Linked DNA regions of Homo sapiens. The protein of the gene in region 2 purifies or fractionates together with the protein of the main gene of each other region. This does not show direct contact. Each region holds a gene or a part of one and is shown on either strand. Other genes may lie near its edges.

Region 1 (7,000 bases), about 27 Mb from region 2:
GATTGGGTCTCATGAGGTTGCCCAGGCTAGTCTCAAACTCCTGGACTCAAGCAATCCTCCTGCCTTGGCCTCTCTAAGTGCTAGGATTACAAGTTAGAGCCACCATGCCCAGACACCTGAAACCAATTTTGGAAGAATTTCTGAGGGTAAAATACTATCAAACAGCATCACATGCTACAGAGAAATGTTTCAGGAAGTGTCAACTGATAGGGCAAACTTAATTGTCTTAGGAAATTGGCACAGTCGGCTGGGCGTGGTGGCTCATGCCTGTAATCCCAGCACTTTGGGAGGCTGAGGCGAGCAGATCACGAGGTCAGGAGTTCGAGACCAGCCTGGCCAACATGGTGAAACCGTCTCTACTAAAAATACAAAAATTAGGCGGGCATAGTGGCCTGCACCTGTAGTCCCAGCTACTTGGCAGGCTGAGGCAGGAGAAATTGTGGAACCCAGGAGGCAGAGGTTGTGGTGAGCCAAGATTGCACCACTGCACTCCAGCCTGAGCAACAGAGCGAGACTCTGCCTCAAAAAAAAAAAAGGAAAAGGAAAAGAAATTGGCACAGCCACCAACCTTTTGCAACCACCACCCTGATCAGTCAGCAGCCATCAACATCAAGGCAAACAAAGATTCCCACTCAGTGAAGGCTCAGATGATCATTAGAGTTTTTAGCAATAAAATACTTTTTAATTAAGGTATGTACATTTTTTTAGACATAATGCTACTGCACACTTAATAAACTATAGTGTAGTGTAAACATTTATATGCATTATTAAACCAAAAAATTAGTGTGACTTGCTTTATTAAGATAATCACTTTACTGCAGTGGTCTGGAACCAAACTCACAATATCTCTGAGGTATACCTGTACAGAAGAGAATGATACATCTTCATATATGTCCCTGTGCAGTGATCTCCAGGATATATCATTAAGTAAAAAAAGCAAGTTGAAATAAAATGTTTTAGTATACCACTGTTTAAGAAAAGGAGTGGAGACACAAATATATTAGTATGTGTTTATATTTTTTTCAATGGAAGGATAAGCCATAAGATTTTTTTTTTACATAAGTAACACTATGTTTTTTTTTTTGTTTTTTTTTTTTGTTTTTTTGAGACAGAGTCTCGCTCTGTTGCCCAGGCTGGAGTGCAGTGGCATGATCTCAGCTCACTGCAAGCTCCGCCTCCCGGGTTCACGCCATTCTCCTGCCTCAGCCTCCCAAGTAGCTGGGACTACAGGCACCCGCCACCACGCCCAGCTAATTTTTTGTATTTTTAGTAGAGACAGGGTTTCATTGTGTTAGCCAGGATGGTCTCGATCTCCTGACCTCGTGATCCACCCGCCTCAGCCTCCCAAAGTGCTGGGACTACAGGCGTGAGCTACTGCACCCGGCCTACACTATGATTATTTTTATATGCATCTTTTGATCCCATAAATCTGCTAGCAGTAAGGGCTTCTATATACAGAAGAAAAAATAATTCCCTTTCATCTGTGTAGTGCTGGGGACAGCCTCATACCACTTTTTTTTTTTTAAATAGTAATCGATGAGAGCAGAAGATAACAAAGTGAGGACAAAAGCAGATGCTGAATTTCAGTAGATAAACTCGATGCAGTGTGTTTGATTTAGAATTATGACTATGCTTTACACAAATACAAAACAAAATTAGTTTTTTAAGAATTCTTAAAAATACAAAATACAAGACTGGGTAGCTAGCTTGTGTTTTAAGTAGAGAACCAATCCAAGTGATTTTAAAACCAGTCATTTGATTGTACACTCCTAGTGGAACAGGCTGAAGAACAAAATAACTTATTTGGTTTATTTTCAAGTTCTTAAGGCAGGCACAGTGGCTTACGGCTGTAATGCCAGCATCTTGGGAGGCTGAAGCGGTAGGATCGCTTGAGACCAGGAGTTCAGGGCCTGCCTGGGCAACACTGCAAGACCCTCACCTGTACGAAAAAAATTTTTTAAAATACATAAATTTGAAAATAACATCTAAAAAAAAGTTAAAACATATTTCTAGCTCAATGAAAACAAGCTTGCTTGTGCCCCCAAATTTCTAAGCAACATATTTCCAAAATTCAATCCTCTTGTGCCTATTTTAATTCTTAAATGAATGTACCATTCTAAGTTTGTTAATGTTCAAGAAGAATGTTTTCAAACGGTATTTCTTGTCCTTAAGGGTAAGGAACATACCGCCGGGCGCGGTGGCTCACGCCTGTAATCCCAGCACTTTGGGAGGCCGAGGCGGGTGGATCACAAGGTCAGGAGATCGAGACCATCCTGGCTAACACGGTGAAACCCCGTCTCTACTAAAAAATACAAAACATTAGCAGGCCTTGGTGGCGGGTGCCTGTAGTCCCAGCTACTCGGGAGGCTGAGGCAGGAGAATGGCGTGAACCTGGGAAGCGGAGCTTGCAGTGAGCCGAGATCGTGCCACTGCATTCCAGCCTGGGCAACAGAGCGAAGAATCCGTCTCAAAAAAAAAAAAAAAAAAAAAAAAAAAAGGCTAAAGAACATATTTTACACATGCTTGATTTAATCATTCAACAAATATTTAATGTGGGCTTCTGCTATGAGCCTACCATGAATGAGGCACTGTGCCAGCTACGTCCTTGTTACACAATGGCCTCCTTCATTGTACATGCTGGTAATGGATGACTGAAGGACATGGCGTGGAATTGTGGTCTTCCTGACATCCTGCTGCCCTTCTCCCACTGTGATGCCTGAGGGGTTTGGTGACAGGAATGGACTAACCCATTCCCAGTTCCAGAGATGCCTCCTATTTTAACTCCATCTGGTTAACCTACCCTCCTTGCCATGATGGTTGGTTAAGATAACCCTGGCCTCAGCAAATTGGCACTGGAATTCCTCTGCAATTCTGTGTTGAAAAATCAACTAGGGCTAATGAGAAAGAAACTGAAGGGAGACTTATTTGCTCAGGGGTTCTAGGGAGAAAAGTGTCCTTACTATTAAATGCGGCTGGGCATGGTGGCTCATGCCTACAATCCCAGCACTTTCAGAGGCTGAGGTGGGTGGATCACTTGAACGCAGAAGTTCGAGACCAGCCTGGGCAACATGGTGAAATTCTATCTCTAGCAAAAATACAAAATTTGCCGGACATGATGGCATGCACCTGTAGTCCCAGCTACTTGGGAGGCTGAGGTGGCGGAATCACCTGAGCCTGGGGAGGTCAAGACTGCAGTGAACTTTGATTGTACCACTGAACTCAGCCTGGGCGACAGAGTGAAACCCTCTGTCAAAAAAAAAAAAAGAAGCTATTCTGAAACAGAAGAGTCACTCTCAGGTAGCCAGGCTCCCTCACTCAGTGTCTCGGACTTGTTCTCAAAAATACAAAATAGTTCAGCAAACCACCACGGCACATGTTTACCTACGTAACAAAGCTGCACTTTCTGCACATGTATCCCGGAACTTGAAGTAAAATAAAATTTTTAAAAAAAGAAAAGAAAAAAAGAAATATATACATATATATATAGATATAGATATAGATAGATATGTGTGTGTGTATATATTTATACACACACACATATATAAAATAGCACTACAGTACCAATAAAATGCACACAAATCACTGTTAATTCCAAGGCAGGGTTTACATTGTGCTTATTTTAAAACCAACAAAAACAACCAGAAACTGGATGCTATTAAGGTATTGATAATTTTGCGGTAATATTTACATTTTGGTTATGCTTTTTAAAAGTTTTTACCTGTCAGGTATACACTGTAAAATTATGCAGATAAAATTGTTTTGAATTTGCTTAAAAATACTCCAGAATTTTTTTTTTAAAGACAGGGACTGAGGTGTAGTGAATGAAAGAATTATAAAATATTGAAGGTAATGGGTAAATGATAGTTTATTAAATTGTTCTATTTTTGTAGTTTAATCCATAAAAGCTTCAAAATAATAATGATCATAATAATATTTCACATTATGATCCTATATATAAGAAGCTGCCTTGTGTACTGAAGAGCATGCTACATTTCTAAGTGTTTATTAAGTAAATCAGTGATAGTATCCAGGTCCCAAGAAGATATATATGTCTACGCATAACACATGCAGTCACGCAGGTACTTAAAATGGACTTGAATCTAATTCAACGCTGTGATTTTTACAGCTATAAAAACTGAAGTCTAAGTCTGGGTGTGGTGGCTCATGCCTGTAATCCCAGCACTTTGGGAGGCTGAGGCATGTGGATCACTTGAGGTCAGGAGTTCAAAGACCAGCCTGGCCAACATGATGAAACTCCATCTCTACTAAAAATACAAAAAATTAGCCAGACATGGTGGCTCGTGCCTATAGGCCCAGCTACTTGGGAGGCTGAGGCAGGAGAACAGCTTGAACCCAGGAGGCAGAGGCTGCAGTAAGCCGAGATCACACCACTGCACTCCAGCCTGGGTGACGCAGGGAGATTTTGTCTCAAAAAATCAAAAACAAAACCAAAAAACTCAAGTCTAATACATTCATACTTTTGTATTGTGACCTAAGTAGTAATTCTAGTTTTGTTATTTTTGTCAACAATGTATCTTAAAATTCAAACTACAAGCCTACAGTGGCATCCAAGACCTATTATTCTCAGTTCTTAGAATGGACTGCTGTCCATCCTCAACTTGCAAGACCACTCAGGAGCATCTGGCACTTTCTTTCTTGTAAAGCATCTTCCACCCTCTCTCTTCCAGCCTCACACTCCTTGGTTTCTTTCTCCCTCTGGCTTCTGTGCTGGGACTTCTTTGCTTATTCAAGTTCTAAGGTTTTACCCTTGGCCCTCCCTCTTTCCTCACTCTTTCTCTGTGGGTTTTTTTTTTTTTTTTTTAACTTTTATGCTGAATGTCCCCTTAGAGCCATATTTCTAAGCCAGACTTAAATCCACCCTAGACTCCAAAATCAAATAGCTATACCCATCACCAAAAACTCAGTGGGTGCCCAAATGAAATATCTGCCCTGCTTCAGTTCTTATTTGCTTACTGGTACCTGCACCCACGGTAGTCACACTGCTGCTGTACATCTGGTCACCAGGTACTGGAGATATCTGCAGTCATCACTTCCTTTCCATGTTCAACGCTAAAGTCTTAGTTCTAGCCTTCATCCTCTCCTTTCTGATCATTTTTAAGTGTCTCTTAAATGATGAATACTCCAGAATCATCGCTACAGTCTGACTGTCTCCCCCAAATTCTCATGCTGAAATTCTAAACCCAATGTATTGGTATTAGATGGTAAGGCCTCTGGGAAGTGATGAGGTCATGGGCAGAGCCCTCATAACTGGGATTAGTAACCTTATAAAATAGGTCCCAGTGAGATCTTTGCCACTTCTACACAACAAGCAGGGATCACCTACAAACCTGGAAATGGACCCTCGCTAGACACTGAATCTGCTAGCACCTTGATCTTGGACTTCCCAGCCTCCAGAACTGTGAGAAATAAATTTCTGTGGTTTATAAACTACCCAGTTGATTGTATTTTGTTAAAGTAGCCTGAACTAAGATAGTCATCTTTCTAAATGCAAAGCTAATCATGTTACTTCCTTCCTTAAAATTCTCCTATGACTTCCCTGTCTGAAGGTCCACACTCCCTTATAGCTCTCAAGGGGAGTCAGCTGATCTCTCCCCACTATTCTTACTGCAATCACTTCGCACAATCCTGAAATTCCAGTCTGCAGCACAACCCTCCACCTAACTCTCTGAGCTGCTACACACCTCAAGATCACTGCTCTTCTGGTTTCTCTCCTCCTATGAAGATTACATCACTCATTATTCATTCAACAGACATGTACTGAATTCTGTATTAGGATACAACAGTGGAGATGGACACTACCTAGCCTCAAGGAGTTTATAGCTTGGGGATACTTGGGGAGTTTATAGCAGAGGATATTAAATAAGTAAGCCATTGGGTAGGGAATGGGACAGAATAATCTCCCCAGGAAGTAACATTTGGGTGCATCTGCATTTTCTTACACTACCATCTCCTACTTCTTCACAAACTTATTTAGAGGTGCCCCTCCCCCCCCCTTTTTTGGGGGCATATCTGAGTTTTAAAATGGCTTATAAGATTTTGTCCTGTATTTCCTCTTTCTAAAATTCACAATCCTAGCAAAAACCTAATTAGATTTCAAAGTCAGCATTTCCTAAGCACCCCCACCTCAGCACAGCCACCCTGCCAGGCCAAACTGACCTCTCCCTCCCTCAGGCCCCTGGATACAAGGCTCCAGCTGACATTGGGTCACCCTAACCTTTCCCGGCCTAGCTCTGAGCAGCTTCTATATGGGCTGAGAATCCCTAAGGGCAGGAACACCACCCTTCCATCTTTAAATCGCCACCAACACAGTACAGGCCCACAGTAAATAAAGCTTTACATGTTTAAAGGGCAAAAATTCATTCTTTAAAGGTAAATTACTTAGTACACTGAGAATAAATTTGTATAAACTTCTTGAATAACAATCGTGCAATATCTGTAAAAACTGTAAAGGGCTGGAAATACCACTTCTAGTTAAGGTTCTACAGAAATCCTAGTAGTGGGCATAAAAAATCATGTCCAAGGATTTCCTGGCCATCAGCAGATACCTGGGGAAAAAATTACGGCACATCCTACCGTGGTAGAGCCCATCTCCAGTAGTTAGAAAGAGGAGGCAGACCTCTCCATATCAATATTGAAAGATGTCTATAAATTGTAAGATGACAGCTATACTAAAATCTTGCCATTTATTTTTTTAAAAGAAAAAAAAGTATGTGCTCACAGCACAAGGAAAAAATTCTAAGATACACCCAGAAACTTTACTTCTGGGGGAATGAGACTAGAAGCAAAGAGGAGAAACCACCCATTTCTACCTTAAACTTCCTATTACTGAATTTGTTAGAATGTGATGTAATGTGTTTTAAATTTTATTTTTATTTTTTATTTTGAGATGGAGTGTTGCTCTGTCACCTAGACTGGAGTGCAGTGGCGCGATCTCGGCTCTCTGCAACCTCCGCCTCCGGGGCTCAAGAGATTCGCCTGT
Region 2 (7,862 bases):
TCTACAAAAATACAAAAAAAATTAGCCGGGTATGGTGGCGGGCACCTGTAGTCCCAGCTACTCCAGAGGCTGAGCAAGGAGAATCACTTGAACCCAGGAGGCGGAGGTTGCAGTGAGCCAAGATTGCGCCACTGCACTCTGGCCTGGGCAACAGAGCAAGACTGCATCTCAAAAAATAAAATTAAAAATAAAAATCCCACTAAAACATGCATTAGTTTATGCTATGTTAATACTGGTCAACCAATTTTGTTTTTTTTTTTTGAGATGGAGTCTCCATCTGTCACCCAGGCCAGAGTGCAGTGGCGTGATCTCAGCTCACTGCAACCTCCGTCTCCTGGGATCAAGCAATTCTCCTGTCTCAGCCTCCCGAGTAGCTGGGATTGCAGGCACCTGCCACCATGGCCAGCTAATTTTTGTATTTTTAGTAGAGACAGGATTTCACCATGTTGGCCAGGCTGGTGTCAAACTCCTGATTTCAAGTGATCCGCCCGCCTTGGCCTCCCAAAGTGCTGGGATTACAGGTGTGGCATGAGCTACCACACCCGGCCAGTCAACCAAAATTTTAAGAGCCATCTGAGATTGAAATTAGAAACAAAAACAGTAACACAATAAAGCATCATTTTACCTGTGTGCATACACTGAACACCAAGTTAAATGATGAAAGTTATGAAGACACTCATTCTTGACAGCAAAAATCCCTGGTGAACAGTGACAGATCATGAGAAAACCAAGACTTAATGATATTTTAGGTACAGCTTAAATATACTTTAAAACAAAATGATCTAGCCAGGTGCGGTGGCTCACGCCTGTAATCCCAGCACTTTGGGAGGCCGAGGCAGGTGGATCACTTGAGGTCAGGAGTTCGAGACCAGCCTGACCAATATGGTGAAACCTCATCTCTACTAAAAAAAATTAGCCAGGCATGGTGGTATATGCCTGTAGTCCTAGCTACTCAGGAGGCTGAGGCAGGAGAATCACTTGAACCTGGGAAGTGGAGGTTGCAGTGAGTCAAGATCACGCCATTGCATCCCAGCCTGGGCAACAGAGAAAGACTGCATCTCAAAAAAAAAAAAAAAAAAAAAAAAAGATCTAGGTCCAGAAATGACTAAAGCCAAGGATCCTTGATCCCTGGGCCACTGACCGGTATCCAGTATAGAAGCGAAGTGAAGCTTCATCTGTATTTACAGCCACTCCCCAAAGCTGGCATTACCGCCTGAGCTCAGCCTCCTGTCAGATCAACAGAATTAGATTCTCATAGGAACGCAAACCCTGCTGTGAACTGCACATCAGAGGGATCTAGGTTGTGCATTCCTTATGAGAATCTAATGCCTGACGATCTGTTACTGTCTCCCATGACCCCCAGATGGAAGCAGGTAGTTGCAGGAAAGCAAGCCCAGGGCTCCCATTGATTCTACATCAAGGTGAGTTGTATAATTATTTCATTATATGTTACAATGTAATAATAATAGAAATAAAGTGCACAATAAATGTAATGCACTTGAATCATCTCAAAATCATTCCCACCCCCACCCCACCCCCTACTTGCTCCAGTCTGTGGAAAAACTGTCTTCCACGAAACCTGTCCCTGGTGCCAAAAAGGCTGGGGACCACTGACTAAAGCCAAGGAATAACCCACATACTTTACATGGGTTCAAGCATTTACTCCGAAATGAGATACAAATTTATATATATATATATATATATATATATATATATATATATATATATATGTATATATATATATATATATATATATATATATGTATATATATATATATATATATTTTTTTTTTTTTTTTTTTTTGAGACAGAGGCTCGCTCTGTCACCCAGGCTGGAGTGCAGTGGCATGATCTCAGCTCACTGCAACCTCTGCCTCCCGGGCTCAAGCAATTCTCCTGACTCAGCCTCCCAAGTAGCTGGGACTACAGGCACACACCACCATGCTTGGCTAATTTTTGTATTTCAGTAGAGATGGGGTTTCACCATGTTGGCCAGCCTGGTTTCGAACTCCTGACCTCAGGTGATCCGCCCGTCTTGGCCTCCCAAAGTGCTGGGATTACAGGTGTGAACCACTGCGCCTGGCCACAAATTAATAATTTCCAGCAAGTTTTTATCCTGCAATCCACAGATTCAAAAGGGAGAATAAGAACACCCTGAATCGTAAGCATCTAATTAAATACAAATAGGTTACTTATATTTATGTAAGAGCTCTTCAGCTTGTCTATGAGGCAAAATGCCAACAAGTGAAGAAGTACAGGATGGCTCTCCAGTATCAAATGAAACGATGTGGAGTGTGTGAGAGGGCATGATTTGACCTTGACATAAGGGTGATAATGATTCTCAGAAGAACTGGAAGTTAGGACACTCCAGTAACTCCCCTGAGATTCAACAGTCTAATTTGTATTAGTAGGAATAGGGCTATATACATCTCTAACATTTTGTCCAGCTTAAAATGCTACCTAGCATTATTACATTATCTCATAAGCCAGTATAAAGCAGCTCTAGTATACCATGAATTCAGTTTCCCTTCAAGTTAAAAAGCACATTTCTCGTGATCTGTGACGTACGTTTTTCTGGTTTTTTTTTTTTAGTCCAAGCTAAGCATGGACACTGTAATATATCTTAATGAAGACATATCCAATGCAGCGTCATCTTTATTCTCTGATAACAGCCATTATGTTATTCACAGGATATATGCTCAGTGCCAAAGATAAGATTAAGCTGCTTTTAAAAGTGAAGAGTAAGGATTAACTAGTGCTTTATAAATACGTTCTAAAACATTTGACCTTCAGACACAGAGGGCAAAAATAGTGATTAAAACACACTAGGCAGCTGGGAGAGGTGGTATTCATCTGCAGTCCTAGCTACTCAGGAGGCTAAGAGGCAGGAGGATCATTTGAGTCCAGGAGTTTGAGGCTGTAGTGTGCTATTATCATACTTCTGAATAGCCACTGCACTCCGCCCGGGTGACAGAGCAAGAACCTGCCGCTAAAAATAAAAATAATAAAAGATGAAAGAAAAATAGGAAAAACAAGAAAGGAAGGCAAGTAGTAGACACAATATCAAACTGCTGGAATGCTTTTTTTCTAGCTACTATCCTTTGAAAATAGGTCTTAAAATTCCAGGACTAAAAGTCCTTAGGATCAATGAGGCCAGTGACACTTTTAAGTAGGGAACCCTTGTTCAAACAAAACCCTACCCAAAAGCTCAGTATGCAAAGGCAAATGGAAATGAGTATTTAGCTGGCAAAAGAAGGGTAGGCAGCCCTAAATCTTTCTATTCAGCACTCTCCTTCCCATTAGAACAATCCTTTTTTTATGTTCTAAATGAGGAAACAGATGGGCTTACACACATTAAGGAACTGACTGACTGTAGATGACCCAGTCAATATCACATGGCAGATCTACAGCTCAAACCTCCAAAACCTATCTAGATAAAGAATTTTTCGGTATGTCATAGTTGTTTCTTGGGTCATTGCACGGTGGCTGATGCCTATAATCCCAGCGCTTTGGGAGGCTGAGGCAGGAGAAGTACTTGAGCTCAGGAATGCAAGACCAGTCTGGGCAATATAGCAAGAGCCCATCTATATAAAAAAAATTTAAAAAAATTTTTAAATTGTTCCTTTGGAGAACTTAATTCAATTTAGAATGGAACACACAAAAAAAGGTTTTAACAGAAACTCAATACAGCTGACCCTTGAACAAAAGGGGCTTGAAATGCACAGGTCCACTTGTACACAGGTTTTTTTCTGCCTCTGCTACCCAAACAAGATCAACCCCTCTTCTTCCTCCTCAGCCCAAAGTGAGGATGATGAGGGTAAAGAGCTTTATATATATATATATATATATATATATAGTTATTGACCAATCATGTTATTGGTGAAGCTTCCAGTGAACAGTAGGCTAGTAGTAGTTAAGCTTTTGGGGAGTCAAGTTATACTTGGGGCCAGGTGCAGTGGTCCATGCCTGTAATCCCAGCACTTTGGCGGGCCGAGGTGGGTGGATCATCTGAGGTCAGGAGTTTGAGACTAGCCTGGCCATCACTGTGAAACCCCGTCTCTACTAAAAATACAAAAATTAGCTGGGTGTGGCGGCGCGCCTGTAATCCCATGAACCTGGGAGGCAGAGGTTGCAGTGAGCCAAGATCACACCATTGCACTCCAGCCTGGGTGACAGAGCAAGACTCCATCTCAAAAAAAAAAAAAAAGTTACACTTGGATTCCTGACTGTGGGGCACAGTGGGAGTGGGCTGGGGTTCAGTGCCCCTAACCCCAGCACTGTTCAAGGGTCAACTGTAATTTTAAGTGAGCTCTCACATATTAATTGACAAGGTCCAAGAATTTTCTTTCTTTTTTTTTCCCCTGCCTCAGGTTTATTTGTACTAATAGCACAGGAGGACCCCAGCCCCATAAAGACGGCAGCCCAGGGGGGTTGCATCAGTCCTTCTGTCCTCACGTTGGCAGACAGAGATACCTACTCCGAAGCCTTTGTAGGGGCCTGAGAGCCTTTGGGAGGAGCCTGAGCTGGAACTGAAGCTGGAGCTGCAGCCTGGGCCTTGGTTGATCCTTGGCCTTTGGCCCACACAGTCTGAGCCCCTTGGCAATGCGGACACAAGCACACTTCCCAAGCTTGGGGTGGACAATGTAGGCAAGTCAATCGAGTTCGCAGCTGACACCCTTTGGGATCTTGGGCTTAACCTCCTTGGGCTTTACGAGGGCCCTGCTAGCCTCAGCAAGTGCACTCATTGCCTTGGCATTGTTGGCCTGCATCTTCTTTAGGCCCTTCTTGTGCTTCTTGGCAAAGTGCATGTTCCTCAGGAACCTGGAGCCCACCATTTCTGTGCCATTTTCAGGACTGGTTGTGTGTGGTGTGGTTCGTGGACTTGGCCATGTCTGTACCTTAAGCCGCGGCTCTCCAAGTGCCTAGAACCGGAAGCTTCATTTCTTAAAATATCAAGAAAATGGATGCCATTCTCTTATCCTTGCTTTTTTTTTTTTGATACGGAGCCTCATTCTGTCGCCCAGGCTGGAGTGCAGTGGCACGATCTTGGCTCACTGCAACCTCCGCCTCCCATGTTCAAGCAATTCTCCTGCCTCAGCCTCCTGAGTAGCTGGCACTACAGGCGCACGCCACCACACCAGGCTAATTTTTTTTTTTTTTGTATTTTAGTAGAGACAGGGTTTCACCTGTCTCTACTACCCAGGCTGGTCTCCAACTCCTGGGCTCAGGCAATCTGCCCACCTCGGCCTCCCAAAGTGCTGGGATTACAGGCGTGAGCCATGGCGCCCGGCTTATCCTTGCTCTTTACTCAGGATGCTATGCTTCTTAACAATAGGTCTCTCAAATTACACAGGAAGGACCTGATTCAGCAGGTCATCTACGCAGGCCAGGTAATTTTCAGTCTCTGTTGTAAGATATACCAAAGTATCTTAAAGAAAATCCTGGCTGGGTGCGGTGGCTCATGCCTGTAATCCAAGCACTTTGAGAGGCCGAGGCGAGCAGATCACGAGGTCAAGAGATGGAGACCATCCTGGCCAAAATGGTAAAGCCCCATCTCTATTAAAAATACAAAAATTAGCTGGGCGTGGCAGCACGTGCCTGTAGTCCCAGCTACTCAGGAGGCTAAGGCAGGAGAATTGCTTGAACCCAGGAGGTGGAGGCTGCAGTGAGCCAAGACTGTACCACTGCACTCCAGCCTGGTAACAGAGTGAGACTCCATGTCAAAAAAAAAAAAAGCAAATCCTATAGGGAATTTTGTAACAGAAAACATAGGGAAGGGATTGAACAAATTTGTATATGAAGGATAAAGGCAGCAAAATCTAAATTTTTTAAATTAGTGACAATACTTCTAAAACAATAGATAACACATAACTTTTATCTAGCTAACACTAAATAGTCAACTTAATTCAATACTTTCCGAGTAAATATTTATTAAGTATGTACCATGTATAGGTGATACAGAAATAGTGGGGAACAAACTGAGGGGGATGGGAAGATGCTGCTACCCAAATAAAGAATGTTTACATAAATCTTTATCCTTTTTGCTTCAGTGGAAACAGTTTTTTTTTTACATTTCACTTTAAAACCAATGAACCACTTTTGTTTCCATGTACCTGACCCTACCACTCCTAAAGCAAATTTACCCTTTCCACACTCTCATCCAATTACTGTGTTCTCCTTTAGAGACTACACCCAGAAGCCACACTCTATTCTTGGATGCCTTACCAAACCAGTTCACCAAGCTTTCTTCCTTAGAGCCAGATCCTGAAATCCCATCTCTCAGGAAGCCTTAACTTGAAAGTCAGGTTAATCTGTTTAGCCTCACCCACAGACAGCTTATAACTACCATAACTCTCTCTGCACTCACCACCTTATAATAGGCACCTATTACTATAATTCTGCTCAGAAGTTAATTTATTCATGTGCTTATTCAGTACATTACTCATTGCCCTTATGGGTCTGTATCAGGTCTTAAATAAAAGCTACCAGATAAAAGGACATGTACTGTACTTGGGTTTAGCACTGAAAAATGACAATGCTTAATGCTTTTTGAAACTGATTTCAAATACATTAAATTTAACCTGATTTGTGAAATTTATAAAATCTCCCAACATAGATGAATCTCAAAAACATTATGTTAAGTGAAAAGTGCCAGACACAAATGACCTCATATCGTATGATTCCATTTATATGAAATTCTAGGAAAAACTATAGTAATGGAAAGCAAATCAGGGGTGAGGGGCCTTATTTTCCCACATAGTAGGTTTTTTTTTTAAAGGCAAGAATGATTTAAAAACTTCAAATCTATATCATCTCAGATTTAATCTTCACCTCATAAGATAAATTTGCAACTTTCTTCCAAATGATTTACTTGCTCATTTACAACCAATAGCACATTTTATCACTCAATTCTCCATTAAAACTGTAAATCAGCATTGGAACTTTGTTTTTTTTTTTGTTGTGTTTTTTTGTGTTTTTTTGAGATGGCGTCTCGCTCTGTCACCAGGCTGGAGTGCAGTGGCGCCATCTCAGCTTACTGCAACCTCCGACTCCCGGGTTCAAGCTATTCTCCTGCTTCAGCCTCCCGAGTAGCTGGGATTACAGGCACGTGCCACCATGCTCAGCTAATTTTTGTATTTTTAGTAGAGACGAGGTTTCACCACGTTGGCCAGGCTGGTGTTGAACTCCTGACTTAAAGTAACCTGCCTGCCTTGGCCTCCCAAAGTGCTTGGATTACAGGCGTGAGCCACCACGCCTGGCTGGAACTCTTTTTAAGGACAGTTTTATTTGAGTTGTTTCCATGTAAAGACTATGCAACCCAGTCCTTAATTCAAGACATGAAAAATACAAACTGGAATAGAAAAAGGGGCTAACAGGCTGGGCCCGGTGGCTCACGCCTATAATCCCAGCACTTTGGGAGGCTGAGGCAGGTGGATCACCTGAGGTCAGGAGGTGGAGACCAGCCTGGCCAACACGGCAAAACCTCAGCTCTACTAAAAATACAAAAATTAGCCAGGCGTAGTAGTGCAGCTCTGCAATTCCAGCTACTTGGGAGGCTGAGGCAGGAGGATCACTTGAACCTGGGAGGCGGAGGCTGCAGTTAGCCAAGGTTGCGCCACTGCACTCTAGCCTGGGCAACAGAGTAAGGCTCCGTTTCAAAAGAAAAAAAAGCCGGGCACAGTGGCTCATGCCTGTAATCCCAGCACTTTGGGAGGCCGAGGCAGGCAGATCACCTGAGGTCAGGAGTTCGAGCCCAGCCTGGCCAACGTGGTGAAACTAAAATACAAAAATTAGCTAGGCGTGGTGGCGGGCGCCTGTAATCCCAGCTACTCAGGAGGCTGAGGCACGAGAATCACTTGAAC
Region 3 (7,862 bases), on a different chromosome or scaffold from region 2:
CTCTTTTTGTACTGATATAGTCTAAGATCTTGGAGCTGGGTGTGGTAGTGCATGCCTGCAATCCCAGCACTTTGGGAGGCCAAGGTGGGTGGACTGCTTGAGCTCGGAAGTTCAAAACCACTTGGGGCAACAGGGCAAAACCTTGTCTCTATGAAAAATACCAAAATTAGCCAGGTGTGGTGGCGCGCACCTGCAGTCCCAGCTACTTGGGAAGCTGAGGTGGGAGGACTGCTTGCGCCAGGGAGGTCGAGGCTGCAGTGAGCTGAGATGGCATCACTGGGTGACAAAGTGAGACCCTGTCTCAAAAAAAAAAGAAAATAACAATAAGATGTTGGAGACAAACATAACACAACACAGAACAGTATACACATTGTGCTACTATTTCTGAAAGGGAAAGGAAGGGATGGTTGGAAGTATATAGTGTACGTAGGAATTTGCCTGTAAACATATGGACCTCTAGAAGGAAAAACAACCTAATAACATCAAGAATCTTTTGGGGGCCAGGCGTGGTGGCTCACGCCTATAATCCCAGCTACTCGGAGGCTGAGGCAGGAGAATTGCTTGAACCTGGGAGGCAGAGTTAACAGTGAGCCGAGATCACGCCACTGCACTCCAGCCTGGGTGACAACAGCGAACCTCTGTGACAAGAAGGAAACTCTGTCTCAAAAAAAAAAAGAATGTTTTGTGGGGGCAGGGAATGAAGACTAGAGATGAGACGTGGAAGGGAAATTTTACTCAAATATCCTTGAATTTTCATTGGTTGAATGTACAGCTTAATCAAAGTAAGACTGATTAAAATTTTATTTAACTATATTAATTGAACAATGTCATAGATGTTAACTTATAAACTACACTTAAAATTAAACAATTATCGACCAGGCATGGTGGCTGACATCTGTAATCCTAGCACGCTGGAATGCTGAGGCAGGAGGATCACTTGAGGCCAGGAGTCAAGACCAGTCTGGGCAACATAACAAGACCTCGTCTCTATAACAATAAAAACACTTAGCCGGGCATGGTGGTGTGCCCCTATAGCCCAGGTACTTGGGAGGCTAAGGTGCAAGGACTGCATGAGCCCAGGAGTTTGAGCCATGATCACACCACTGCACTCCAGCCTGGGCAACAGAGTGAGACACTGACTCGAAAATTTAAAAGTTGGCCAGGCGCGGTGGCTCACGCCTGTAATCCTAGCACTTTGGGAGGCCGAGGCAGGTGGATCACGAGGCCATGAGTTCAAGACCAGCCTGGCCAAGAAGGTGAAACCCCGTCTCTACTAAAAATACAAAAATTAGCCGGGTGTAGTGGCAGGCACCTGTGATCCCAGTTACTGGGGAGGCTGAGGCAGAGAGTTGCTTGAACCCGGAGGCAGAGGTTGCAGTGAGCCAAGATCATGCCACTGCACTCCGCCTGGGCGACGGAGCGAGACTCCATCTCAAAAAAAAAAAAAAAAAAAACTTTTTAAAATAAAATAATCTTAACAGCTCTTTGATTCTCTTACGACGGCATCTCCTCAATACATCTGTGGGAATTAATCATCTTTAAATGCTGCTGATCCAATACTGTAGCTAATTAAAAGAACATTTAATTTAGATATCACCTAAGGACAAGATTTAATAAAGAGAACAGTTAGGCTCACTAATACTTCAGAATTTTCTATAAATCATATTTATTCTTACTTTGTCAAACTTTCCAAGGCTGCTCTTTGTTCGGGGATCTCCCTCTTCAGAGCCAGTCATTGCTAACTGCTGCAAAAGGCGGCCTACCTGCAACCCAAAGCAGTGGTAGGGAGACATAAGCTACAGACAGATACTCACAAATACGTCTCTATGAAAGCAAGCACGTCTATTCTGTTCTAAAAATCTGTTTCATAATACTATTCATATCACCTGACCAGGCATATGAAATAGTATCCCCCAAAAAATGTGTACCTTATGTCAGCTTTTACTATTTTTAGATTAAGAGTTAGAGAAAGTATAAATTTTTGCTTTAATTTCTCTTTAACACATAAGATATCAACATTAGGGAAAAAAAGCACAATACATTTGTTTCTGACATTGTACTTTTCATTTGTTTAGAGCTTTTTAAATTAATTTGTAAAAGCTGACTCATTCATTAAATTGCCTTAAGTTAATATTAAGAACATTACCTTATAGCGTTCACAAAGCAATCAAGGTATAATTTTTTCCCTAGATTTAAAAGCAAATGATTCCTAACATAAGCTGGTTTGATAAAGTAAATACTAATTCATAGAACAAGTACCTTACTGGCAAAATTTGTTACTGCACTCTTTTTAAAGGCTAATGATGAAAGTTATTACAACATCCTCTTCTTAATATCTGGGACAAGCCCCCTTTTTACTGATTCTGAAAATATGTAATTTGATCTCTACTGGAATGACAAAAAAAACAAACAAAAAAAACTACAAATACATTATCTACCATAAGAATAAATTTAAGTGTTTCATGGGCCAGGCACAGTAGCTTACGCCTATGATCCCAGCACTTTGAGAGGCCAAAATAGGAGGATTACCTGAGGCCAGGAGTTCAAGACCAGCCTGGACAACAAAGCAAGACCCTGTCTCTACAAAAACATTTTTTAAATGAGCGAGGTGTGCTGGTACACACCTGTAGTCCCAGCTACTCAGGAGGGTGAGGCAGAAGGGTCACTTGAGCTCAGGAGTTCAAAGGCTACAGAGAGCTAAGATGGCACCACTGTACTCCAGCCTGGGTGACAGAGTGAGACTATCTCAAAACAAACAGACAAACAAAAAAAAACCTACTGTTTCATGTCAAAAATTTTGTGCTCGCTTCAGAAGCACATATACTAAAATTGGAACTCTACAGAGAAGATTAGCATGGCACCTGTGCAAGGATGACACACAAATTTGTGAAGTGTTCCATATTATAATTTTTTTAAATTTATAAACATTAAAAAAAGTTAAAAATTTTATTTCAGGCATTTCTATACAGTGAATTGCTAAACATCCCAAGGTGATATAACTGATCATTAAAAACAGCTAATCATTTTTTCTGATTTTTTTTTTTTTTTTGAGACGGAGTTTCGCTCTTGTTGCCCAGGCTGGAGTGCAACGGTGCAATCTCAGCTCATCGCAACCTCTGTCTCCCGGGTTCAAGCAATTCTCCTGCCTCAGCCTCCCAAGTAACTGGGATTACAGGCATGTGACACCACACCTGGCTAATTTTGTATTTTTAGTAGAGATGGGGTTTCTCCATGTTGGTCAGGTTGGTCTCAAACTCTGGACATCAGGTGATCCGCCCGCCTCGGCCTCCCAAAGTGCTGGGATTACAGGCGTAAGCCACCGCACCCGGCCAATTTTTTTTTTTTTTAATAGATATGGGGCAGTTGGGGGTCTCACTATGTTGCTGAGGCTGGTCTCAAATTCCTGATGTCAAACGATCTACCCACCTTGGCCTCCCAAAGTGCTGGGATTACAGGTGAGAGCCACCACACCCAGCTTGAGCTAATCATTTTTTAACAATCACCCAAGGCCAGGAGTGGTGGCTCACGCCTGTAATCCCAGCACTTTGGGAAGCCGAGGTGGGCGGATCATCTGAGGTCAGGAGTTTAAGACCAGCCTGACCTAAATTTTAACCCCATGGCTAAAAATACAAAAATTAGCCAGGGCGGTGGTGTGCGCCTGTAATCCCAGCTACTCAGGAGGCTGAAGCAGGAGAATTGCTTGAACCCGGGAGGCGGAGGTTGCAGTGAGCTGAGATTGCGCCACTGCACTCCAGCCTGGGCAACAGAGTGAGACCCTGTCTCAAAAAACAGACAAAGACAAAATGTTTTGTGACCGCAATAATTTTAAATCCCAGTATTACTGCTTTTATTTAATAAGATGCAAATACTTAGGACTGGTTGAGAAAAAGTTGTAAGAATATACAAATACTGTCATCGTATTATTTGTTCCCACCCCCACAGCCCAATCAACTGAATTTTAAACTAAATGCCACGTTAATAATAATAGCAAAAGCATACCTGCATCAGATTAAATCGTGCTACTTCATTAATAGGAGCATCGGAAATTATTCCATATTGTTCTGGATTGACAACTGCAGGACAAATGAAGCAGGCCAACAGGAGATCAGTACACATTGCCCTGACCTCCCCAACTTCCAGCCTATCTACACAGGAGAGGGTTTTGTACATCTGAGACACGATCCACCTTAAACTATGTGGAAAACAATATGTGTTCTGTTTGAGATAACCAATAAATTTGTTCACCAAAGCCACTAGCTTTGCTTCATTGGACTCCACCATTTCTTGAACTTTTTGCCTGAATCTATCTGAGCCCTTCTCTCCAAAGAGTTTTTCCTGCTGAGATGGAGAGAACCTCTCAATTAGCTTGTTTGGATCTGTTTCCAGGTGATCTTCATCTTCAACAAGCAGTTGCATAATTGGCTCATGTAAAGTGGCTGTGAGGAAAAGTTTGGCAGAAAACAGTCCTTCAGAAAAAAGTTTAAATAAGATGCTGAAGGCACAAGTTCCTCTCCTCAAAAGTCGCCTAGGGTTGTCACTTTCTTTAAGTTCAAATTCAATCAAGTATCGCAAAACCTGAAGGAGGTAGCTTTCATCTTCTTGCATGATGCAATTGCCATACAGGGAGGTAAAAACTGTGTAAATAACACTTTGTGTGTTCTCCTGATTAAGTTTCTCTCCAGCAACCAAAGAGGAGGCAATAAGACGAGGATTTTCCCTCAATCGACTCAAGAATTCTCCATAAGCAGTCTCCTGAAATCCCAATTGCTTATACCCATCAACAAATTGTGTATCTTCCAAAATTTTGGCATGTTGGCAACATTCAGCAGGGGAAGCTTCAGCACTAAAAAAAAAAAAAAAAAGAGCAAACAAGCAAAATAATAGTATTAATAATAATAACACATATACTATATCCAAACATGGATATGTGAGTTGATTATGGTCCCAACAATGAGGTCACTCTGAATTGCTAAAATTTTTTAAACTAACAGCAACTCAATGAGTAAAGGACAACAAAACTAAAAAGTACAAAGGACAATTTCCTCTTATCAAATCAGAATCAATGAAAAGTATTGGGGCTGGGTGCGGTGGCTCAGACCTGTAATCCCAGCACTTTGTGAGGCCGAGGCGGGCAAATCACTTGAGGCCAGGAGGTCGAGACCAGCCTGGCCAACACGGCGAAACTCCCATTTCTTCTAAAAATACAAAAATTAGCCAGGCATGGTGGCAGGCACCTATAATCCCAGCTACTTGGAAAATTGAGGCAGGAGAATCACTTGAACCCAGAAGGTAGAGGTTGCAGTGAGCTGCAATCATGCCACCGCACTCCACCCTGGCCAACAAAGCAAGACTCTGTCTGGAAAAAAAAAAAGAAAGAAAGAAAGAAAATTATCAGTTTGTAGATCCTAAAAACTGTCCAGAGCTGCCCTCTTATGGATTAAATTAAAATTAGCTACAGGAAGGACACAGTGGCTCACACCTGTAATCCCAGACTTTGGGAGGCCAAGGTGGGAGGATCACTTGAGCCCAGGAGTTCAAGACCAGCCTGGAAAATATGGTGAAACCCCATCTCTACAAAAAAATATGAAAATTAGCTAGATGTGGTGGCGTGTGCCTGTAGGCCCAGCACTCAGGAGGCTGAGGTGGGAAAATCGCTTGAGCTCAGGAGCTTGAGACAGCAGTGACTCAAGATCATACCACTGCATTTCAGCCTGGGCGACACAGCCAGATCCTGTCTGAAAAAAAAAAAAATCAGCTACAGTTAAACTGCTTATGCTTATTTATGGACATAAGAAAGTTTACAAATACTCAAGTACTAAAAAATAATAAAAATGAAGTCGATATCAGCATATTGCTCAACCATTCTCAACAGCAACATGCCAGTATGTAATGACCTGCAGAATCACATCCTTTAACTAGGCTTTTTGCTTCTGGAAACAAATCCAAATAAAATAAGCCTAAAAGATGTGGGGAAAAAACCACAATGCCCACAACAGCACTGTTCTTTTTTTTTTTTAAACTCATTTTTATTGAGGTAAAATACAGTAAAGTGCACAAATGTCAAGTGTTCAGCTTGAACAATTTTTACACATACATGCACCCAGTAATCACCACTCAGATTAAGACATGGAACATTTTAAAAACCCAAGAACGCTTTCACGTGCCCTTTCCCAGTCAATACCACCCTCTCAAGCCCAAAAAGTAACCATTATTCTGATTTCTGTCATCAAAGATCAGTCCTGTCTCTTTTTGAACTTCATACAAATAGAATCATACAGTATGTATTCTTTTGCATCTGGCTTATATTCTCAACAGCACTGATATTCTTAGAGTTAAAAACTGTTCTTGGCCAGGCAGGGTGGCTCATACCTATAATCCCAGCACTTTGGGAGGCCGAGGGGGCAGACTGCGAGGTCAGAAGTTCAAGACCAGTCTGACCAACATGGTGAAACCCCGTCTCTACTAAAAATACAAAAATTAGCCAGGCATGGTGGCACAAGTCTGTAATCCCAGCTACTCAGGAGGCTGAGGCAGGAGAATCTCTTGAACCCAGGAGGCAGAGGTTGCAGTGAGCTGAGATTGTGCCACTGCACTCCAGCCTGGGGGACAGAGCGAGACTCCAACTCAAAAAAAAAAAAAAATAAAATAAATGTTCTTCGTAGGTATTAAGACAATAAAATGTGGTTTCTAAACCCGAAAAATAGCTATACAATATCAAAACATGGAAATACATATATATATATATATATATATATATATATATATATATATATATATATATATATATTTTTTTTTTTTTTTTCTTTTGAGACAGAGTCTCACTCTGTCACCCAGGCTAGAGTGCAGTGGTGCGATTTTGGCTCACTGCAACCTCCACCTCCCGGGTTCAAGCCATTCTCCTGCCTCAGCCTCCCGAGTAGCTGGGATTACAGGCGTATGCCACCATGCCCCGCTAATTTTTGTATTTTTAGTAGAGATGGGGTTTCATCATCTTGGCCTGGCTGGTCTTGAACTCCTGACCTCGTGATCCACCCACCTCGGCCTCCCAAAGTGCTAGGATTACAGGTGTCAGCCACCACACCCAGCTGGAAACCTATATATTAAATAATATTAGGAGAAAAGCAGAACAGATAATTTACTCTCTACAACAACATTTTTTTTTTCTTTTGAGGAGACAGAGTCTCGCTCTATGGCCCAGGCTGGAGTGCAGTGGCACAATCTCGGCCCACTGCAACCTCCACCTCCCGGGTTCAAGCAATTCTCTGCCTCAGCCTCCCGAGTAGCTGGGATTACAGGCGCCTACCACAATGCCCAGATAATTGTTGTATTTTTAGTAGAGACGGAGTTTCACCATCTTGGCCAGGCTGGTCTTAAACTCCTGCCCTCATGATCCACCCGCCTTGGCCTCCCAAAGTGCTGGGATTATAGGTGTGAGCCACCACGCCCAGCCAACAATAACATTTTATATAGACAAAGACACAAAACCAATTGGTGTGATATAAAATGTCAATGCTTAAGTTACAATTTTCTATAAAAGTGCCTAAGTTACTTAATAATCCAAATAAACTGTATTATAAGCAAAGACTCACCTTAACATTGATGTAAATTATCTTAAATAATGCACTTTGTTGGAAACAGATTCATTTATTTATAGTTACTAATTTATTTACAGAATCATAGTGGTTCACAAAACTTAAAACCTGAAAATCATCTCTTTACCTGGTTATGATAAGCCGATCCAAATTGATTCTCTGTTGCTTCGCAATCCATGCTGTACGATACAACTTTTCAGCTGTCTTAAGTACATCTGCATTGAGCCTCTGAATGAGCTGTTTCTCAGAGTTTACATATAAGCGTTCCTG
Region 4 (7,862 bases), on a different chromosome or scaffold from region 2:
TTTATGATATTTTTATAATTTATAGAAAATAAATTTAAGAAATGGCTGGGAAGGAATTCACATTTACAGAACTGACCACAGATTTACTCAGTATTGATGCTTAAAGACAAGTTTCTGTTAGCAATGTATTGAAGAAAAAAATTGGAACTTCAGTGAACAGATTGTTTTCTAGTATAAGTGGTGGCTTTTTAGAGGTGTACTATTTTAATTTTGTATAATTTATATATAAGCCAATGCAGAAATATACATATTTATCGATATTTGAGCTAAAAATATTTATATTTTATTTTGGAACAGGTTTTATGGACTTAAACTAGGCCCTGCAGATAGCTAGAATCTAGATAGGCAAAGGAGAGAAGTTTTTCTCTAGTGCAAGTAAATAGCATGGGCAAAAGCTTGGAGAAGAAAAAAATGTGTAATATATTTGGGAGACTTTGTAGAAGCTAGCAGTATTGAAGGTTTGTACTGGTGAGCTTTTGGTAGGTAAGTGAGGGCTATATTGCAGAGAAATTTAAATCCCAGAACTAAAAAAAAAAAAAAAAAAAGGAGTTTTGGCTTTACCCTTTAGAGAGAATAGAAAGCTATTCTCAAAGCATTAGAATATTAAAGTGATATTAAGAAAGTATGTTATAACATTTATCACTTATAGATAATAAACAAAATTAGTCATTCCCTCCACAAAATAAAAAAAAGTAATAGTTCTGTGTAATGTCAAATCAAAATGATCATATCTCTCTTGAATATGTTCTTTCTCATTTTCTCATCCTCTACTTCAGGTTTGGTAACAAAGAGGAATACATGGCATTCATGAATGATTTTTTAGAACATGAATGGGGTGGAATGAAGCGCTTTCTTTTGGAGATCTCTAATCCAGACACCATCTCAAACACCCCAGGCTTTGATGGTTACATTGATCTGGGCCGAGAGCTTTCAGTTTTGCATTCCTTACTGTGGGAAGTAGTTTCCCAACTTGATAAGGTAAAGTAGGTTGGTGGAAGATAGAGAACTTTAATGTACCTGAATTCTGGAAAGTAACTATAGAGTGATAGCACTCACTCTTTCTGCTAATTGAAAGCAACTGTTTACCCTAGAAATCTGAGAGTAAATGGTCATCATTTCTGAGTAAAATATGAGATCGACAACCATGAAACTCTAGAAAACCATGACATTATTAATATATGTTTTTAATAATTATCTGAATTAATGGAGTATATTTCTCTAAATTTATATATACAGAGTGCATATCTGAAAACTTGACTAGAAACTAATATATTGGTATATACAGCCTTATGCATGTCTAATAGGATAAGATGAAACCTCATATAGTAATTTCTAATAAAAGTATAGATTTAGCTAAGAAAATACTAGGTTTATCATGTTTTAAGTAACTACCCATGAAACAAATTTTTTTACTATACAAGTCATAGAGTTTCATATAATTATTAGTGCTAACAGTCATTGTTTTCTTTCTTTACAGATGTGAATTAAGAATACAGAAAGCAATTATTTTTAATCGTTTGCTAAGAATTTTATTATATACCGTATTAATAAGTAAATATACACCATGCCAATCATTTTCTTCCTTCTGGAATTTAACAAAAAGGAATAGATTTGGTAGTAAAAAATAGTCTAAAAGACGTTGGCTAGGCTTATTACAATAATTATTTATTGATGTTTTTGTTTGCTACAGGCACTTTATAAATATGTGTGGTGGTATGTTAGAATAACTTCAAAAGACAGTCATTTTTCTATGATAATGATCTACTTATTTTCCTCTATTTTCCTATCAATAAAAATGCTATATCAGTAAAATTTGAAGGGGAATAAAACCTATTAACAAAGACCACTTTGCTGAGGAAACATATGTGGTAATGTGTCCTCCAGTGCTTAAAATATTTGTAAAACAATAAACTGTTCCTTATTCTCGAGGACCTTTTCTTCACTTTTAGAAATGCTAGCTAGATTTTTAAGTTGCAGCTATGCCAAAGATAAACCCTTTTCATGTGAATCGTAGCCCAACATTATTGAGCAAGTAAAGGCCTTGGTGGCATCTATCCCTGTTTGAGTAGGGTAGAAGAGTCTGTTGATTGTTGAGAAGGCAAAGACCCAAAGGCAGCTATGCCAAACTGACTGACAGTTGAAGGGGACCCCTAAGACCCCATGAGAATAAGAATTCCCTAAATAAAAAAATGATTGAAATGGATAAAGCAAGTATTAAAGAGTTCGTCTTTGTTGAATAACTGCATCTCAGTGGAATGCAGATTCAGTTTTCCTGTGAAATGGGCCTGGTTTATTCAGGATCAAAGTCTTTTTAACGGGCTTTGCTATGTAAACACACTTTCTCCTTTTTAATCTGTGTTTGGTCCTGGGAACCAGGAATACATCTAGACATATCTCATAGAGGAAGTTTACCTGATTTTGCTGTTAAATTAACAATAAAAATTGTCTTACTGATGGAAACTCAGTTGGCAGTGGGTCAGGGTTCCCAAGATTGACTGGGATAGTGGATGGCAGTATCATCTGTGTGCCCTGCAGTACTCTGGATTCCTGAATGAGCACCTTCTTATATGTTGGCATGCATTTCTTTTCTCACATGATCCCTTTTCTTTGAAAGTTTATCATACTAGTTGATCCTCTGATCTTGAAGTTCTTTTGGTTAGAAGGAATTTGGTTCTGCCTCCACCCTCCCCCACCTTGATCTACTAGCCTCCCAAAGATTTAGTTTGCTTCGCATGCCTATTTTAGTTGGAATGGCATTAGTTTGGTAGTTTTGAGCATGTCTTTTAATTTTTACTTGCATAATCCTGATTTCGATTTCCTTTCTTTCCTCGATGTCTGCCGCACCTTGTTTCGCCTCCTCCATTCATCTCGACGCCATGGTTCTGCTGCTCCATAACAATGCATTATGAACCTGCCACTCCCATATGCAAACACTTACCCTTCCCTCCAACCTACACCCCTCCATCAATGGCCATCGTTGTGCCAAAAACAATCTGTGGTGGATGTCGCAATGCTTATTATCCAATTAGGGTGAAAATTCCTTCCTACAGGCGACCGTGGCAAAATTGGGGCCTCTCCCTCGTGTTCTTGCTGATATTACCAAGTCATTGACTAATCCTACGCCAATACAACAGCAACTGAGACGCTTCACTGAACATAACTCCAGTCCAAATGTCAGTGGAAGCCTCTCCTCTGGGCTGCAGAAAATATTTGAAGACCCCACTGACAGGTATGAAAGAGAGAATTTGACCACTATCTCGGAGAAACATAATGTTTAGATTTAGCAGAAGTATATTCAACCTATTTGTTGAATTTACAAGTTTAAAATCATGAGCAACTGAAGACTCATCTGACCTGAGAGCAGTCCAATTATTTGTCATAATAATGCACAAGATCTGGGATGACTTATTTTCTAGAATGGTAGTATAGAGAGTTACAATATATTCCACAAGCATATTTTTAAAATTTCTGTCTTGCTTAGTGGAAGACTAAAGGCTTTATGAAATTCATGTTTCTGTACGTTATAGCATTCAAAATCTTGGAGAACCTCGGTTAAAACCATTTTATAGCTGGCTATGTCAACTGGACAGGTAGATACAATGTCGATGCTTAGACTGTTTTAGGGATTGGCAAGACTTGTGCCTTTTGCAGGGACCTTTCAGTTGTGTGCTTAGAACTTCTTCTCTTGAAGGTTTAGACAAGTAAGTATGAATTGGAATATTTGGGGAAGGTTTAAAACCTAACTAGGAAATTATTGGAATCCTGGTTAAAACTGAAGACAGTGATGGGTTGGTATCTACAGTGTTATTCTGTACCTTTGGGGAAAAAGTAAAAATGCTGGATTTTATTCTAAGCATTGTAATAATTCCCTAATTAGATAAAATCTGAGTTTCCAAAGAAATGTACGTATCCACATAAGAACCTTCGGAGGAGTTCATATGCCTGAATTGAGGCATCTTAGCCATGTTGAAGTTGTCTCAAGAGAAATTAAGTGTCCTTTCCTTTTCCACAGTGATTTGCATAAACTAAAATCTCCAAGCCAGGACAACACAGACAGCTACTTCAGAGGGAAAACATTATTGCTGGTTCAGCAAGCCTCCTCTCAGAGCATGACTTATTCTGAAAAGGATGAAAGGGAAAGTAGCCTTCCTAATGGTCGGAGCGTCTCCCTCATGGACCTCCAGGACACTCATGCTGCTCAAGTGGAGCATGCATCTGTCATGCTTGATGTGCCTATACGCTTGACCGGAAGCCAGCTTTCCATAACCCAGGTGGCCAGCATCAAACAGCTGCGGGAAACCCAGAGCACTCCCCAAAGTGCACCCCAAGTGAGAAGGCCCCTGCACCCAGCCTTGAACCAGCCAGGTGGCCTTCAGCCCTTGTCGTTCCAGAACCCTGTCTATCACCTCAATAACCCAATTCCAGCAATGCCAAAGGCCTCTATAGATTCCAGTTTGGAGAACCTAAGCACTGCCAGTTCCAGAAGCCAAAGTAACAGTGAAGACTTCAAGCTCAGTGGACCCAGCAATAGCAGCATGGAAGATTTCACTAAACGTAGCACTCAGAGTGAGGACTTCTCCAGGCGGCACACGGTGCCAGATAGACACATACCTCTTGCTTTGCCACGACAAAATAGTACTGGGCAGGCCCAGATCCGAAAAGTGGACCAGGGTGGGTTAGGTGCCCGAGCCAAAGCCCCACCATCCCTGCCACACAGTGCTTCTTTACGTAGCACCGGGAGCATGTCAGTGGTGTCCGCAGCCCTGGTGGCCGAACCTGTGCAGAATGGGAGCCGGTCCCGGCAGCAGTCCTCTTCCTCCAGAGAGAGCCCTGTTCCCAAAGTTAGAGCAATCCAGAGACAACAGACACAGCAGGTAGGTGTGAGTGCTGAAGGGGCCTGGCTTCTACTTGGTCCATCTGTTTCCTTGGTTCTTTATACATAAATCATTGGGAAATCCTATTGTTAACAAGATTTCCTCTTAAAAGCAACCTTTAAATGGAAAGAGGAAAGGAAAAATTTGGGAGGCTTCTGCCCAGGTGTGACTACAGAATGTAGTTTGACTCATTACCCTTAAGAGTCTAACAAACACGCAGAGGCCCCCTTCCTTCTCTTCAAGCAGCAGAGCTGCTACCTCAGTTTGCACTTAGAGCAAATCTATGATGTTGAATGAATAATTAGATACTTAAAATCTGTAGGCAAAACCAGCTATTATTTTGGAAATCTGAAAATTAATCCTTCTTAATTTTTTTTCTTAAGCTTCCAGAATAAAGGTTTGCATTCCGAGCCAAGAGTTTAATATGACTGCTCTCCATTCCATCCCTCAACTCCTTCTGGAAATACAAAGTCCCATGTGGCTTTTCCTGGAAATAGCTAGAAAAATAAACACTTGAACACCTGTAGAGTCAAGGTAAAGGAGAGAGTAAAAAGATAGAAGCACAGGTGGAAAAGGAAGTATTCTAAACATCTGCAAATCCCTTACATTTCTATTTACATGGACAAGCCCAGCTAACATCACATCCAATCTTAATATAAGTTTTTCTAATTTTTTTATTGACAAATAAAAAGCTTTGCCAAGAAACTAATCATTTCTTCCTTAAATATTACATTTTGAAGCATCAATACATATTTTTCCCTTTGAAACAAACTACTGTTAAATATATAATATACACATTCATATAATTTTTCATGTATATAATATATATCTTTATATATCTTTCATCTAAAAAGATTTTTCTCCTAAAAAAGCATTGTATTAGTTGAATTTTTTTTGAAACCTAATGATAGTACTAAAAAACTTGAGATTAAAAGAGTTCTATGACAAATCCTTTTATGCAGCAAAATAACTGGGCAGGGAGACTGCAATAAAATCCTAGTTTGTATCTGTTATATATTTGCATTTTTACAGTTTAGGCACTTACCTATATGGCTGCCTCTGCCTCCAGTCTGCTATGATCAGAGCCCCTTGCACCTACTTTGATTTTTTAATTGGATTATTTATAGAATCCTTGGATACAGAAATAGAAGAAGGGATGAAAAGCATGACTAACTTAAGCTGTTTCTGGAAGCAGACTTCCTGGGCTAAACCTCCTAGTTGGTCATTTTTTACTGAGTAATAAAGTTTTTCTACAGTCTTAAATTTTTCATTTTTATTTTGTTATATTTCCCAAAATTTTACCAAATCATTTGATTTAGTAAGCATTTTTATTTGAAGAAAAGGAAAAATAGATATCTTTTATATGTATCATATGTATTTTTTATATATAAATGTGTATGTGTATATAAGCATAAAATGTATGTGTTAGAAGGCTATCAGTCATTCCTACCTTATTGTGAAGTAGTTTCCTCACATCACTTTTGTGCTAGATTCTAGTTGCGATCAACTACTTTCAGAGAATTAAGATGTTTATTGGGAGGAGAAAGGAAAAAATACATAATTTTAGAAATCAGAATACTGTGTAGAAGCAAATATCTACTCAGGGACTTAGGGCAGCACAAGGGCACTGAAGATAAAATAGGATTAGCGAAGAGCATGAGATCTGGCAGAGAGGGACAGGACAGGGAAAGTGTCCTCCACCTGCTTTTCAAAAGTGTACTTAGGCCCAGCCCTGTACAGAAAAGGAAAATAAAGATTCTTTTTTTTTTCTTTTGCTTACCCTTTCCTTCTGTATCATGGAGGGCCTATGACTCAGGCTGGTTGTTTATTAATATTATAAATTAAATAGCCTTTTTTGTGCTCATCTGGAACCAGTTGTCATTTATAACATTTTTTCTTTAGGAAAATACAATACCTATCGCATAAGCACATAATACATGTTTCTGTGGGTTATGATTAGAGGGCTGCCTGGATGGATGGGAGGTAGGAAATGCATACAGTCTCCAAACAACCAATATAAAAATTAGTTTTTGTGTCACAGCCATTAATGAGTCACCAAATATATTTTTTGGCATGAAGTGGGGTACAGGCACAGTGAGATGTCCAGGTACAGCTTTGAATATTAATCTTTGTTTATACTTTTGCTGGTACTGCCACTGTCCTATCAGTTGAAGCATAAATCACCGTATTTTGATTGCTCAAGTTTCTTTTTTTTTTCCTACACTGGCTTTTGGTTCATTGTTTTGAACTTACATTGTTAGTTTTTTATTTTTATTTTTATTTTTTTGAAACAGAGTCTTGCTCTGTCGCCTAGGCTGGAGTGCAGTGGCACGATCTCGGCTCACTGTAACTTCCGCCTCCCAGGTTCAAGCAGTTCTCCTGTCTCAGCCTCCTGAGTAGCTGGGATTACAGATGCCCACCACCACGCCTGGCTAATTTTTGTATTTTTAGTAGAGGTGGGGTTTCATCATGTTGGCCAGGTTGGTCTTGAACTCCTGACCTCAAGTGATCCACCTGCCTCGGCCTCCCAAAGTGCTTTGATTACAGGAGTGAGCCACCGTGCCTGGCCTAGTTTTTTATTTCTTATCTGTTTCTTGCTTGCTTTGTTCATCTCACTCCCATGAAGCCTCTGAAGTTCTATATAATCAGCACATTTTTAAGGCAAATTCCTTTACATATTTTAATTGCAAATTGTGTTGGGGAATTCTCTCCCAGAAACTAGAGGATTTCTTTGTGGGGATTGTTCTGTAGGCGGCTGTAATTATCAGTAGCTTTGTCCCATGCAAATTCCATTTATATCTTAGCACAAAGTAGTGGCCATTGTCTGCAGAGTAACTGGCTTCAGTCTTCTACGTCTAATGAGTAGGAAGGAAATAAAATCCTGGTGAAAAAATTCACAGATAAATTTTTTTTCAAGAAACTCTCTTAATTTTTTAACCCATTTCAGCCTCTGTTTGTATTGCTTTTTTCTTATTTTCCTCTCTATTT

What was found.
Region 1: the proteins of CSNK1A1 (region 2) and SNX24 purify together in Homo sapiens (affinity purification with mass spectrometry; 5 studies listed by BioGRID and IntAct, with this or other methods). This does not show direct contact.
Region 3: the proteins of CSNK1A1 (region 2) and GAPVD1 purify together in Homo sapiens (affinity purification with mass spectrometry; 7 studies listed by BioGRID and IntAct, with this or other methods). This does not show direct contact.
Region 4: the proteins of CSNK1A1 (region 2) and RASAL2 purify together in Homo sapiens (affinity purification with mass spectrometry; 5 studies listed by BioGRID and IntAct, with this or other methods). This does not show direct contact.

The regions. Positions count from the first base shown.
Region 1 is NC_000005.10:122,848,613-122,855,612, reverse strand, and holds part of SNX24 (sorting nexin-24), read right to left. Parts: intron 1-7,000. UniProt on the Homo sapiens protein: May be involved in several stages of intracellular trafficking.
Region 2 is NC_000005.10:149,540,910-149,548,771, forward strand, and holds part of CSNK1A1 (casein kinase I isoform alpha), read right to left. Parts: intron 4,936-7,862; exon of another isoform or gene 4,361-4,935; intron 1-4,360.
Region 3 is NC_000009.12:125,298,964-125,306,825, reverse strand, and holds part of GAPVD1 (GTPase-activating protein and VPS9 domain-containing protein 1), read right to left. Parts: coding exon 7,720-7,862; intron 4,844-7,719; coding exon 4,000-4,843; intron 1,764-3,999; coding exon 1,677-1,763; intron 1-1,676. UniProt on the Homo sapiens protein: Acts both as a GTPase-activating protein (GAP) and a guanine nucleotide exchange factor (GEF), and participates in various processes such as endocytosis, insulin receptor internalization or LC2A4/GLUT4 trafficking.
Region 4 is NC_000001.11:178,453,671-178,461,532, forward strand, and holds part of RASAL2 (ras GTPase-activating protein nGAP), read left to right. Parts: intron 1-776; coding exon 777-978; intron 979-3,029; coding exon of another isoform or gene 3,030-3,050; coding exon 3,051-3,229; intron 3,230-4,012; coding exon 4,013-4,874; intron 4,875-7,862. UniProt on the Homo sapiens protein: Inhibitory regulator of the Ras-cyclic AMP pathway.